Linked DNA regions of Homo sapiens: region 1 is linked to region 2. Evidence: fine-mapped expression QTL. A gene starts in region 2. The other region holds a variant in brackets. All regions are shown on one strand. Distances are from middle to middle.

The links. PIP is the estimated chance that this variant, and not a neighbour inherited with it, causes the effect. A credible set is the group of variants that fine-mapping cannot tell apart.
Region 1: its variant is the best candidate, but not a certain one, in a credible set for the expression of FLG in prefrontal cortex (CommonMind, PIP 0.65).

The regions. Positions count from the first base shown.
Region 1 is chr1:152,200,615-152,205,019 of GRCh38, forward strand. All of the region lies in intron 1 of CCDST (cervical cancer associated DHX9 suppressive transcript), which reads left to right. Among named protein-coding and RNA genes, the nearest start is that of CCDST, 14 kb to the left of the region's middle. The variant G/A (reference allele first, on the strand shown) is at 2,065.
Region 2 is chr1:152,322,780-152,327,184 of GRCh38, forward strand. It overlaps FLG (filaggrin), which reads right to left and starts at 2,460. Exons shown (of 3, transcript NM_002016.2): 1 at 2,410-2,460. All of the region lies in intron 3 of CCDST (cervical cancer associated DHX9 suppressive transcript), which reads left to right.

The DNA.
Region 1 (4,405 bases), 120 kb before region 2:
TGAAATCACTCCTTGATCCATGGGCTGCAGAATGGATGTTGTGTTAGCAGGCACAGGAAAAACATCGTTGTACATTTTTATCCGAGCTGTTGGATGACCAGGTGCATTGTCAATGAGCAGTAATATTTTGAAAGGAATCTCTTTTTTCTGAGTAGTAGGTCTCAACAGGGGGCTTAAATAGTTAGTAAACCATGCTGTAAACAGATGTGCCATCATCCAGGCTTTGCTGTTCCATTTATACAGCACAGAGTAGATTTAGCATGATTCTTAAGGGCCCTAGGATTTTCAGAATGGTAAATGAGCATCGGCTTCAACTTAAAGTCACCAACTGCATTAGTCCCTTACAAGAGAGTCAGCCTGTCCTTTGAAGCTTTGAAGCCAGAGAATTGACATCTCTGTAGCTATAAAAGTCTTAGGTGACATCTTCCTCTGATAGAATGCTGTGTTATCTACATTGAAAATCTGTTGTTTAGTGTAGCCACCTTCATCAATTATCTTAGCTAGATCTACTGGATAACTTGCTGCAGCTTCTCCATCAGCATGTGCTGCTTCACCCTGCACTTTTATATTCTGGAGATGGCTTATTTCCTTAAACCTCATGAACCAACCTCCGCTAGCTTCAAACGTTTCTTCTGTAACTTCCTTACCTCTCTCAGCTTTCATAGAATTGAAGAGAGTTAGGGCCTTACTCTAGATTAGGCTTTGGTTTAAGATAATGGTGTGGCAGGTTTGATCTATCTAGATCACTAAAACTTTCTCCAAGTCAGTGGTAAAGCTGTTTTGCTTTCTTATCATTCATGTGTTCACAGGAGTAGCACTTTTAATTTTCTTTAAGAATTTTTCATTTGCATTCACAAACTTGGCTAACTGGCACAAAAGGCCTAGCTTTTGGCCTCTCTCTGCTTTTGACATGCTTTTCTCACTAAGTTTAATCTTATTTATTTATTTATTTATTTATTTTTGAGATGGAGTCTCGCTCTGTCGCCCAGGCTGGAGTGCAGTGGCATGATCTCGGCTCACTGCAACCTCTGCCTCCCAGGTTCAATCAATTCTCCTGTGTCAGCCTCCCGAGTAGCTGGGACTACAGGTGCCTGCCACCACGCCTGGTAAATTTTTGTATTTTTAGTAGAGACAGGGTTTCACCATATTGATTAGGCTGGTCTTGAACTCCTGACCTCAGGTGATCTGCCTGCCTTGGCCTCCCAAAGTGCTGGGATTACAGGTGTGAGCCACCGTGCCCAGCTCTTATTTTTTATTTAAAGTGAGAGACATGTGGCTGTGCCTGGTGGCTCATGCCTGTAATCCCAGCACTTTGGGAGGTCGAGATAGGTGGATCACTTGAGGCCAGGAGTTCGAGACTAGCCTAGGTAACATAATGATATCCCATTTCTACAAAAAATTTAAAAATTAGAAGGGCATGGTTGTCTGTACCTGTAATCCCAGTACTTGGGAGGCTGAGGCATAAGAATCGCTTGAACCCGGGAGGCAGAGGTTGCAGTGAGCCGAGATCTTGCCACTGCACTCTATCGTGGGCAATAGAGTGATACTCTGTCTCAAATAAATAAATAAATAAATAAATAAATAAATAAATAAATAAAATAAAGTGAGAGACATGTGACTCTTCCATTCACTGAAACACTTAGAAGCCATTGTCTGGTTACTAACTGGCGTAATTTCAATATTGTATCTTAGGGAATAGATAGGCCTGACTAGAGGGAGAAAGAAAGGGGAGCAGCTGATCACTGGAGCAGTAAGAACACTCATTTATCGATTAAACTCTCTGTTTCATATAGGAAAGGTTTGTGGTGCCCTCAACAATTACAAGTGTAACAGCAAAGATCACTTATTACAGATCACCATAGCAGATATAATAATAGTGAAAAAGTTTGAAATATTGTGAGAATTACCACAATGTGACACAGAAACATGAAGGGAGCACATGCTGTTGGAAAAATGGTGCCGATGGACTTGCCAGACAGGGTTGCCTCAAACCTTCAATTTGTACAACACACAGTCTGTGAAGCACAATAAAGTGGAGCACAATAAAATGAAGTATGTCTGCAT[G/A]CAAACTCCTCTGAGGTATACGAGTAGGAGTAGAACTGCTGGTAGACAGGGTATGCACATTTCAAAGAAATCTGTTCCTTATCCTGTCTCTATTTTTTCAGTCTGCCAGTCCCCTTCCTGCCTTCTTTCATATCTATCTAGGATTCCATCATCACACTTTTGAAGTTGTGGGCCTCAATCATGTTATAATGCATTGTGATTGTTGTCAGCAATTGGTAAGCATCTCAAAAAAGAACAAACCAAGTCACCCAGATCACTCCCCAAAGTGGGCAGAAGAGAAAAGGATTGGGTTAAAGGTTGCAATAACAGTGACCCCCTCCTGCCAGGCATGATGAATCTTCCTATCTAGACAAACTTGCTTTAATCTCCTTTTGTTTCCCACTCTACTTCCTTTGAGAGATGTCAGAGATAATGATGGTGAGTGGGCTAAATTCACTTTCTTCCTCTCACTTCCTTCTCCACTTGGCTCTTAGCTTCACCTCCACTACTCCCCATGCACACATGCCTTCAGATATAATATTTACAGCTACTTATTGCCTTTTATTTGCTGTGCTCTCACTGCTAATTATCCTACATTATGTTTCATTCTCTTTGGTTTTGTTGCCAAGAAATATCCCTATATCCTTACTCCCTGCCATCCCTTGCTCTTAGAAATCTGGTTTTCCTTTAATGATGCTGTTTTCCTTTTTCTGTGAAGTGGAGCCTGGCTGTTCTGGTGAAGTCACTGTGGGCTAGTAGATTGAGAATGAGTTCATAGTCACACTTGAGTTCAAATCTGAACTACATCATAGGTGAGCTGTGTGTCCTTGGATTTATAACCTCAATTTGCATACTGAGGAGAAGTTTAAGGATCTCTGCATCAAAGAGTTATTGTGAAGGCAAAAAAGGGGTAAGTAATGAGACATTGGTACATAGCTCCTAGTATATTCCATATTGTTAGTTTTATTTTACCTGAAAAGTTGCTACTGCTAACAAGGCCCATCTTTCCTACAATAATGGAGTCGAGAGTGTAAGGTCTTGCCTAGGGGAAATTTGGCTATAAAATTATCCGTCCCTTCACACACATATAGTTTGGGCCAAGGAGGGGGCCTGTAAGGGAGCAATTCCCAACCTTTTTGGCAGCAGGGACTGGTTTCATGGAAGTCAACTATTCCATGGATGGGAGAACAGTGGGGGTGGGATGGTTTAGGGATGAAACTGTTCCATCTTGGATTATCAGGCATTAGATTCTCATAAGGCACATGCAACCTAGATCCCTCCTGGTGTAGTTCACAATAGGGTTCGTGTTCCTATGAGAATCTAATGCAGCTGCTGATCTGACAGGAGGCGAAGTTCAGGCAGTAATGCACGGTGGGCTGCCACTCACCTACTGCTGTGTGGCCTGGTTACTAACAGGCCACAGACTAGTACTAGTCTGTAGCCCAGGGGTTGGGGACCCCTGCTGTAAGGGTTTCTGGTTTTTCCTCCCATACCTATAACCTTCTCTACAGACCATTATGTGTCCTTGGACCCTTCATTTTTCCTTGTACCTGCCCTGCCAGTCTCAAACCTGGGATTAACCTAATTCCATTTTTTTTTTTTTTTGGCTTCTTCTGCCAGGCTGTTAAGATGGCAAATATCACATACATGGTGCCTTAGCTTATTTCTACACATTTATTATATTAACCTTGCCCACACTCTGAATATTGCCTGGCAATCCCTTTCATCATACCTAGGTGGTTTCTTTTACCAGACCCCTCAGCTGGAATTTTCAGACCTTTCCCTTTTCAGATCTTTCTAAGCCTCCTGCTTCACTCCCTCCCCATCTTCCTTTTAGTAGATCACTTTACTTCCTTCTTTGTTAAGATTGGGAAGTGATTCAAAAAGAATGAGGAGTCAGGCTACCAAGATTACAGTTAGTCTATTCATGTGGATGAAAAAATTTCCTCCATATCATTATCATACTTGTAGGTGTCAGTGTTGCAAAAGTCAGGGATGAAGTTGTTTACATTAGAGAGTTAGCAATTTATAGGAAAGGGCTCAAGGCTTCATTGATTTGGAAGACTAGGTAGAATCTTCTTCCTCATTTTTAGCTTATCTCAGGGTTGTAAAGATTTTTGTTTTTCCTCTCCAATGGTGCGACTTTATATGCTTAGTCATAATGGTGGTTGGGCAAGGAGTCAGTTTTGTTGTCTCCATAGGGGCCAACGGATGTGAATTCTCCTAACTTTGTTTCTAAAAGGAATCAACTAGGTCATGGACCACTAACATACAGATTCCTGGGTCCCATCTACTAGAAATTTGGATTTAGTTGATCTGGGATAGAGGCCATCAGTTTGCTTTTTAAATAATTACCATAGGT
Region 2 (4,405 bases):
AGCATTAAGATATCAAATCTCCTTAAATTCATTTATAGATGCAATGAAATCCCATTCTGAATATCTGAAGTTTTTTTAAAAAATAAAGATTAATAAGGTGATTTCTAAAATTTATATGAAAATGTAGAGGGCTAAGATTAGGTAAGACCATCTTTAAGAAGACTAAGTTGGAAGACATACCAGATAGCAAGGTGTGTTATAAAGGAAGAAAATATGGCATGATGCAAGGCTAAACAAATGGAATGATAAAAGATAATAGTATAAAGTCAGTCTTATATCACTCTGGACATTTGGTTAATGGCAAAGATGGTAGTGTAGGTCAGTAGAGAAAGAATAGTCTTGAATAAATGGTGCTGGGTTAATTGAATTTTCAAATGGAAAAAAAATAGTTTCCAGGTTGATTTTACATGTAAGAGATAAACGAAGATAACATTGGAGAATATCTTCAGGACCTCGGGGTGGGGAAATACTTAAATAAAATTCAAAAAGTACTAATTAATAAGAAAAAGACTGATAAATTGTACTGCATTAAAAGTAGGAATGTTTATTCTTTTAAAGATAGCATTAGAAGAGAGATGTACAAGCCACACAGTGGGAGGATATACAAAACACATTTAACCAATAAAGGAATCTGTCCTGAATATAAAAATAGCTTCTATAAATCAATAAAAAATACAGTTAACTCAATGGAAAAATGAATACCTTAGGAACGTTACAGAAAAGGATATCCAAATGGCCAATAAACATATCAAAACTTCTCAACCTTGTTATGCACTAGGGAAATGCAAATTGAAATAACGTGTGAGACCTCAATACACCCACCAAAGTGACTAAAAAGATAAGAAAGAAAAAAATCCTTGACAATACCAAATATTGGTGAGAATGTGGAGAATTGAGATTTTTTTTTTTTTTATGTACTGCTGGAGGCACATAAAGTGACAGAAGCACTTTGGAAAATTGTTTGACAGTATCTAAGTCCTAGCGATTTACTCTTAGGAATATTCCCAACTGAAATATGTACATATGTGTAACCAAAAGTAGTACACAAAAAAGTGCATAGCCCTATTATTTATAATACCCCCCAAAATGGAAGAGACCCAAGTATCTACCCATAGACAAATGGATGAATAAATTGTTATATTTTCAGATAACATAATAGTCAGTGTTGGGAGATGAAGGTAGACTGGACTAGGATGATAATGGCAGAGAGGGGGATAAATGGATAGATTTGGCAGGTTTGTAGGCAGAGTTGACTGGACGTGGTGATGAATCAGTGTGATGAGAAAACAGGAATCATGGATAACTTCTAGATTTTGGTATGAGCAAACAGTTATTTCTCGTTATTTCTATTATTTCCATCATCTTTCACATAAAAGAATGCAGTCTCTCCCTGCTCCTGCTCTTGCCTTCCTATATTCCTGTTTTCCACGTAGCAGCCCAGAGTGGTCTTTTAAAAACATAGATTATCTTACTCCTCCTGCTTAATACCCCTTTAAGTACATGCTAAAATCTAACATGTACTGTTTTAATTCTACTGTGCCCCTCTTTACATGAGCTACGCTGTCTAGCTCTCTGACATCACCATATACCACTGGTCCTCTTTTTAACTATGTATGCTCTAAGGCACACTAGCTTCTTTTTGCTCTTTGGGACAAGTTTACTCTTGCTTAGAATCTTGCCCTTTGCCTTGGCTAGTTTCTTTTGTGTTTAAGATCTCAACTCAAAGATAATTCCCTAGAGAGGTCTTCCCCTGGCCATCTAATTTAAAGCACTTTCCTCCTCCCTCCCATCACTTTACTACAAGCTTGTCCAATCTGTGGCCCAGGACAGCTTTGAATGTGGCCCAACACAAATTTGTAAACTTTCTTAAAACATTACGAGTTTTTTTTTAAGCTTATCAGCTATTATTAGTGTCAGTGTGTTTTATGTGTGGCCCAAGACAATTCTTTTTCCATTATGACCCAGGGAAGCCAAAAGACGGGACACCCCTGCTCTACTACATCACTCTTTTATTTTCTTCATTGTTCTTATCACTATTTAAAATTATCTTATTTGTTTATTGTTGTTTACTAAATGTTTCCCCCTATTAAAGGTAAGCTGCTAGGAGTTTATATAGTTCACTGCTGCATAGATAGAGCCAAGACCAAGTAGAAGGTAGTTAATACATATTTGTTAAGTAAATGAATAAATGGACAATCTAACAATACAGAGTATTGAGTAGCTCCATGGAAAGCAAATTTATGCCCTCATTTTCCTTCTATATAGAAATAAACCTTTTAGTGACAGTGCCACTAAAAAGAAAGAGAAAAACCCTAAACTTCCAGAACCTTTTGCCTTACAGTACACATACATTCAGATTTCCACCTTGGTTAATAGTAAGTAGACAAAATTAAATGTATTCCTTCTTACCTTGTTCACCAAAAGAGCAAATAGAATGTAGCCTGAAGGAGCCTGCTGGGTACTGAAGGCTGAGATAATGGCCCTTTTATAGCAGGCCCCATGCAGGGAGGAGCCACCCTCTGTGGGATGGTCTGATTCATTCCTAACCAAACCTAGATCCACCCATATCTCCACCTCTATTTCTCCAGCAACCTGTGTTTACTTCCCAGCTTCCTCACGTACTCATCTGTACTTGTTTCAGCAAGTTCCAAATTTGGGTTTACATATTGGAAATTTTATGGAAGGGTCCCTTTGGCTAATACAGGTTGTTTGTGTGCAGGGCCCATACCTACTTTTCTGTAACCCCACTTTGGCTTGACAGGTGCTTGGTAAATATCTATTGATAAATACACTTCCTGATCCTTGTCTCTAGAAGAGTAGGACATATTAATACGTTTATAAGAACTTGAAATTCAATTTATGATAGGAAAACATCACAAGCATCTACATATATGTTCTTTTTTAATCTATGTATTCCATCTTTGGGTACTGAAGAACTTGCCATGAGATGAATGCCGTCTTCTAGAAATTATGGTCAGTAGAGGATAGGCAAATTTAATTTTAATTTTTCAAAGCAGAGCAAGAATGTGAACAATTGAACTAGAAGTGGTGATCACTAGGAGCATGAGTTTAATTAGGCAAGACTCATTAGTGTAATTTTACTTTGTTTTCAAGGTTATTACATCGTGGCATCAGAGACATGTTCCACATACTCTTCCTTCTTAAACCATGAATTTTCTTTTATTGCCATAAATATACAGGGGACTCCTATCCCTGGTCTGTCTTATGATATACACACTGTTATGTTGAGCAGATTGCATCTCCATATGGATGTCCCATGGTTATCTCAATCCATAGTGTTGAAAACTGAACTTACATTGTGCCTCCTACCAAAATGTACTATCCTCCAGAAGCCCATATATTGGTAATGATGCCCCCACACACTGGGTGTCTCAAGCTAGACAAAGTCATTTTCATTTCTCCTTTTCCTTAACCCCTCATGCTCATGTCACATCGTATCAATTATACTCAGGCTTAGATTTTGTTATGTAGGCCTATTCTCTACCTCCAGTGCTATAATTTTAGTTCTGGACCTGACCATCTTTCAATTGGGTATTGGTAAAGAAAAAAAAGTGTCGTAACTAGCCTCTCTCTCTACTATTAAGCTGGCTTACCATCTTATGTCATTCGCTGTGCTGGTTTCTTCTTGCCTGCAGAATTTCAGACTTTTTTACCTGACGTACAAGCCCCTTTACAATAGGCATGAATCTGTATCTTTTCAATTGTCCCTCTTATTACCTGTATCTCATGGAAAAGTCACTCTAGAATGAGCAATATTTCTTGGACGAGCCCATATTGGTCCACTACTGTTCAAAATCTTTGCGTGCTATCCTCCACTACCTTGACTTGAGAGACCCTCATCCTTAACTTCTCTTTATCTTTTAAGATTCTTCAAAATTACCACCTCCTGCATAAAGCCTTACCTGACATCTCCAGATTTATCAGTGTTCCCTCACATACTCTGTATTTACCTCTCAATAGCACTGGTGATATTTTATATTAATTACTTATTTATATGTGTGCCCCCTGCCCCCTGGTGCCTTGAATCCTGTGTTTCTTCTCACCCTAGCATTGACTGGGTCTGAGTCATCCTTTGTGTCCTTGGGCCCTACAGCAATGCCTGGGACATGATCAAATAAGGGATGCAAGGGTGTGCCAATCTTGTTCAGAGTCAAAGAGATAAAAATATGCCCGAGTTTTTAAAACTGTGTTTAATGTCCTCGTTCTTAACCTTATTAGACCATTGATTCTTTCTTTTGTGGAGTATTGGTTAACATCTGTAGAACACAGATATTCATTTTCTCCTTTTTTCTTCTTGGGTCTAATTTTTTTATGCCAGTAGTTATTGCATTTTTGTCTCTACCATGATGTAATAATGATAGTAATCTATATTGTATACCCATTA